2 separate regions of the Homo sapiens genome follow, and region 2 is linked to region 1. Evidence: fine-mapped expression QTL. A gene starts in region 1. The other region holds a variant in brackets. All regions are shown on one strand. Distances are between the middles of the regions.

Region 1 (2,896 bases):
CCTTTGGTTCAAAGTACTCAGCATGCCCAAGTGCCATATTTTTAGGCATCGCTTTCTGAGCCCCAACAGCACCTTCACTCAGATGGCCACTGGGTGTCTCAAACATAACCCAGACCAAGCACCGGCCACTTTCCACATCTCAGATAATGACAACTCTCCTAGGTGCTCAAGCCAAAACTGTGCAGTCCTGCCTGCTCTTTCCCTCACTCCCCACATCCAACTCCTCAGCAAATCCTGTGTTCTCTACCTTCAACAGCCATTCTAATTCTGGCTGCCTCTCCCTCCCCGCTCTTGCCGCGTTTGTGACATCTCGCCTGGATAGTGGCAGCAGGCTCCTCACTGGTCTCCAGCCTCCACTGACATTGATTCTCACCACAGAAGCCAGAGTATGCCTTGAAATCGCTCAGGTCCCTCCTCACAGCCCTGTCTAGAGTAACAGCCCTCCCAGATTTACAGAGCCCCATCCCACCCCTTCTACCCCCACCTCCTACTGTCTGCCCCTCCCCAGGCCTCCCAGCCTCACTGGCCTTCTTGCAGGTCCTCAAGCACAACAGGCCTGAGGGCCACTGCGCTGACTGTTCCCTCTGCCTGGAATTGGCATGGCTGGCTCCCTCATTTCCTTCAAGTATTTGTCCAATGTTACTTTCTCAGTGAGGCCTACCCTGACCACTCTATTTGCAATTGCAACCTCCCTACTCCCACAATTTCCCATCTCCCTTACCCTCCTCTGTTTTTCCATGCCACTTATTATCTTCTAACACATTTATTATGGTGTACAGTATTAACTGAATAAAATTTAGTAGGGGAGACAGGCAATAAACAAGAAAATAAAAGCATGAGCATAGGAAAGTTTACTCTAGCAGTGAGTGCTCTGATGGAAATAACACCCCAGGGATGGGACAGAGACTGCAGGGCAGGTTGCTTTACAATGGTCCCAGAGGAGACCACTGAGCAGAGACTCAAATCTGTGTCCAGAGGCGTCCTGAGGAGTGGAGCTGCGGTTGGGGGTGGGAAGGAAGGCCATTCTAGGCTGCAGGAACTGCAAGGGCAAAGGCTCTGAGGCGGGAGCCAGGTTCATGGGCAGATGTTTGAGGACACCTCCGGCTTCCAGGGCCTTCCAGAAGTTCCAGTCTCTTGGGTTTGGTTGTGCATTCCTGCGACCTTCACCGCAGGCCTCCTCCTCCACCCACTAGTGCAGAGCCTGGGGGCTGCCGGTGGGTTTCAGGCCAGGGAAGCAGAAATGGGTAATTTCCAGAGGCAGAAATCAGCCGACCCCGGTGGCCCGGTGGGTGGCCAACAAAGCTTGGCTGGCCCTCGCGGGCTGTGTAGGAGCCCACCCTAGGGAGGTACCCAGAGACATCCCTGGTTTGGCTCTGCCGGGAAAGTGGGCCGAGCAGGGAGAGGGGGACCAGAGAGGAAGAGATGGACAGAGTTTTCCGGACGGTGGGCTGGGTCCGAGGCCCGCGGACCGTCCGAGGGGGGCCTCTGGGTTCGAGGCCGCCCGCACCGACCAGTGCTGTGGCTCGGGCAGTTCACCGCCCTCTCGGGCCTCAGTTTCCCGCCCTGGCAGACCTCGAGGCGGCCTCGGAGATCCCGGGCCTGGCGAATACTGGGCGGGGAGGGGCGTTAACTCCAGCCTCCCGGGCGGGGTCTCCCGGCTCCCGCGGCCACGTTGCAGCCCAGGCGGAGGCGCGGGATCTCGAGCTGGGATCGCCCTCTTGGGCTTCGGTGCGATCGGCGGCGGGAGGTGAGAGTGGGCCCGGCGGGCTCCGGGAGGAGGTGGCCCCAGGGAAGGTGTGGCCGCGGGGAAGTGGCGGCGAACAGCCCCGACGCGAGGACGGGGAAACCAAGGCGGCAGCCAGGGAGACCCTGACCGAGGTGACCTCTGTTTAGGGCGACAACCGGGTTGGGGCTCCCCGCAGTGGCCACTGGCCCGGCGGTCCCGCACCCCCAGCCCGCCTCTCCTCCAACAAAAGAATCCAGGAAGACGGTGGGGCGGGCGGGAGGCCCGGTGTGCGGTGGCCTGGCCCCCCTACTGGTGGAGAGGAGGGAGCGCCCTTCCCCAGACGCGGGGGAGGGGAGGGGTCATGGCCCCACGGGCTGCCCACCCCCTCCCTGTGCCCCAGTGCTGGGCCCAGGACCCCCAGTGAGGCCACTCCTCTGGCAAACATCTGTGATCTCTTCCCCCTTCCTGGGCCCCCCCTACTGGAATGGCGTCTCTCCCCATCCAGGGGCCTGGCTTGTTTTTCTCCATAACCCTTAGCATTACCGGTCCTTATGTTATCTCTTATTTCACTAATTATTCTTTCATTAATTTATTAGTATTTATTTTGTTTGCCTACAGTGTGTTTCCCCCTGTGGGAATGTAGGCTCCAGGAGGGCGGGAGACTTCGATTTGTCCACTGATGTATCCCCATTAATTCAACAGATCCCTCCTGAGGGCCTCTCTGAGCCCTGCACGGTGCTGGGTATTGGGGTTCTCCTGGGAACTTAGCTGAGCCCCACCCTAGACATTCTGGGGCTGGGAACAGTGCTGTAAACACATATGACATCGTCGTGGGATGAAGGAAACAAACCAGAAATGGGGGGGTCTACTGGTCAGGTGACCTTAGGTCAGGCCACCTTGGTGGTCAGGGCCACCTTAGATGATATGGTGATCATGGAAGGCCTCCCAGATTAGGTGACTTCAGTTAAAGCCAGGAAGTGCTAGAAGGGAAAAGCTAGGAACCATGAGGGCATGTGTAGCTCTGACCTGGACTCAGGCAGGGAGCTGGGGTCTGAAGAGTAAAGGTCAAGACAAGGGGACCCATCCCCTTAAGCTGCTCAGGGGTTCCTGGCTGGGTGGATGGGTGGGGGGATTCTCAGGGGTCAGGGAAGGCTTCCCGGTGGAGGCTGT
Region 2 (2,896 bases), 150 kb before region 1:
CCCCAGCCTGAGCTCCTCAGCGCAAACTCTTTTCCACTCTGTCTCCGTTTCCCCTTAAAGCCCTTCTCTCCCCCTCAGGGGCCATGCATCTCCCCCTAGACCGTCCCGACACCCCAGCCCCTGCGCCCCGCTCAGACTGGTTCCCCTACACACGGAACTCACCGTCCTTGTCTCCGTCGGGGGCCTCTGCGGAGGACGCGCCGCGAAGCCGCCGCTGTCGCCGCCTCCAGCTCACCAGACCCACCAGGACCAGCGCCAGGACCAGTGCCAGGCCCAGCAGCGCGGGGGCGCCAAAGAGCAGCCCGGGCAGGGGCAGCGCCGCCTCGCCGGCCCCCGCGCCCACCGACTCCTGCGGCTGCAGCGCCGTCCTGGGCGCAGGGCTGCTGGCCCCGGCTGCTTCGGGAGGGGACAGGGAGGGAGGCCAGGGGGCCGAGGGGAGGGAGGAGCGGGGACGGGGAGGGGCGGAGGGGGGCGAGGCTGGCCGGGGAGGGGAGGGACAGCCGGGGGGCGGTGGACAAGGGGAGGGAGAGAGGCGGCGGTGAGGGCCACGCGGTGATCGCGGGCCCCTCCAGGCCCTGCCCACAGGGTCCTTTCAGCCCTCGGCGCCCCCGGGGGTCGGGGCTCTGCCTGCGCCCTGGCGATCGGGGCCCCGTTCTCCCCGCAGCTGCCGGCGCCGCGCGCCCCGTGGGTCCCCCTTACCCGGTTTCGGCCGCGGCGTGCGCAGGAGCCCGCAGGCCACGCAGTGGCGGACCAGCAGGTCGAAGCACTCGGCCGGGACGCAGGGCGTGGGGGCTGGCGCGTCCCTGCCCCGCAGGCTCCGGGGCCCTCGCCTCATGGTGCCGACGCCGCCGCACAAGCTGCGGGGACTGAGGCTGAGCTGGGCTCCGGGGCCCTCGGGGAGGAAGCGGGGGGCGGGGGGAGCACTCTGCCCTGCCCCGCCCCCGCCTGCTGGGTGGGACCGAGCTCGCCTGGGGCCCCCCTTTCTTTTCTTTTTTTTTTTTTGAGACGGAGTCTCGCTCTGTCGCCCAGGCTGGAGTGCAATGGCGCTATCTCGGCTCACTGCAAGCTCTGCCTCCCGGGTTCAAACAATTCTCTGCCTCAGCCTCCCGAGTAGCTGAGATTGTAGGCGCCCACTGCCACGCCCGGCTAATTTTTGTATTTTTAGTAGAGACGGGGTTTCACCATCTTGGTCAGACTGGTTTTGAACTCCTGACCTCGTGATCCACCTGCCTCGGCCTCCCAAAGTGCTAGGATTACAGGCGTGAGCCACCGCACCCGGCCTGGCCTCTCTTTCTACCTGTGGTTCCCCAATTCAGCCCCTCAACCAGCACCGCCTGGGTGGGCCCTCTGCTGGGTGCTGGGAGGTGTCTGGGGGCAGACCAGAGCCTCCTCTTGGGTAGGGAGGGGGATGGACCCCGCAGCCAGGACACAGACCCTGAGTGGTTCCTCTGCTCCGTCTAGCCAAAGCCTCTCCATGACCCCGAGTGCTCCCCTGCCATCTCCCCCAACCCACCTGTCTCCTCCTCTCTTCCTGCCCTTCCTGGACAGAGCTGGTTGGGGATATCAGACACCTG[CT/C]TTTTTTTTTTTTTTTTTTGAAAAAGAGTCTGGCTCTGTGCAGTGGTGCAATCTCGGCTCACTGCAACCTCTGCCTCCCAGATTCAAGCGATTCTCCTGCCTCAGCCTCCCGAGTAACTGGGATTACAGGCATGCACCACCATGCCCGGCTAATTTTTGTATTTTTAGTAGAGGTGGGGTTTCACCATTTGGCCAGGCTGGTCTCGAACTCCTGACCTCAGGTGATCCGCCCTCCTCGGCCTCCCAAAGTGCTGGGATTATAGGTGTGAAGCCACAGTGCCCAGCCTGACATCAGACACTTGTACCAGGCCCAAGTAGCATGTGGGTCTGCCCTGAGGGAATCTCACACTTGTGCTGATGGGGGAAGACAGCCTCGCAGCAAGGGCACCAGCTCACGTCATCCTGGAAGGTGGGCCGGAAGGCTTCATGGAGAGGGCGATGGTGAAGTGTTTGCCAGATGGACTGAGGTCTAGGGAGCAGATGGGGGTGAAGGCCAAAGGGGAGCAAAGGCTTGGAGGCCCAAACAGGAAGTCCAGGGAGTGCTGGGACCGAAAGGCTGGACTGGGGCCTTATCTAGCACATTAGGGAGCTTGGACTGTGGCTGGGGGACACGAGGGAGCCACTGGGGCTTTGTGCAGGGAGGACCCAGGAAGATCTGCCTATGAGTGAGGGAACTGTGACTGCAGTGGAGGGAAGCCCGCCCACACCTGCTCCTTTTCTCCAGGGCTATGTGTCCTCTCCTGCTCACCTCTGTGTCTCACTGCGGGCCCCTCCTGTCTATCTCTGCTCCCCAGTGTTTGGGGTCCCCAACTGTCTGTCACCCGTGTCTCTCTCAGACTGCGTCTCAGAAACACACACAAGCCCCTCCGCCCTCCTGGTCACATGCTACCCCCTCCCCAGGGCCAGGGCTGGAGGGAACTCTGGGAGCTCAGGGCTCAGCAGAGAGCATGGGGTTAAATGCCACACATGCCACCCAGACCCCTAAGCACTCAGGGCTGGGGAAGCACAGTGAGAGGAGAAACTCAGGGGCTGGGGAGGGAGCCTGGGGGCAGAGGGAGACCCTGAGCAGCAGCGAGGGGGAGGCAAACACTCCAGGCGGAGGGCTGCAGGGGCTAAGGCTTGGAGAGATGAAAGGGGAGCCTGAGCTGCTCTGGGGGCAGGCATGGCCACTGCCACAGGGGATGCTGGGAGGGAGGAGGGAGCATCCGGGCTGCGGATGGGCAGGGCACCAGTCCCGGGGCAGTACAGAACCTGGGGGTGTCTGGGTAGGAGGGAGATTCTGAGCTGTACCTGCAAGGGTCCCTCTCTCTGGCACTGTGGC

What was found.
Region 2: its variant is fine-mapped to the expression of PHETA2 in whole blood (INTERVAL, PIP 0.98).

Annotation. Positions count from the first base shown.
Region 1 is chr22:42,072,595-42,075,490 of GRCh38, forward strand. It overlaps PHETA2 (PH domain containing endocytic trafficking adaptor 2), which reads left to right and starts at 1,654. Exons shown (of 3, transcript NM_001002034.3): 1 at 1,654-1,747. RefSeq lists enhancers at 974-1,706, 1,707-2,437 and silencers at 1,792-2,171, 2,411-2,705.
Region 2 is chr22:41,925,939-41,928,834 of GRCh38, forward strand. It overlaps TNFRSF13C (TNF receptor superfamily member 13C), which reads right to left and starts at 868. Exons shown (of 3, transcript NM_052945.4): 1 at 700-868; 2 at 163-393. The coding sequence starts at 835. It also overlaps a transcript of CENPM not described here. RefSeq lists enhancers at 1-96, 2,654-2,723, 2,867-2,896 and a silencer at 189-928. The variant CT/C (reference allele first, on the strand shown) is at 1,575.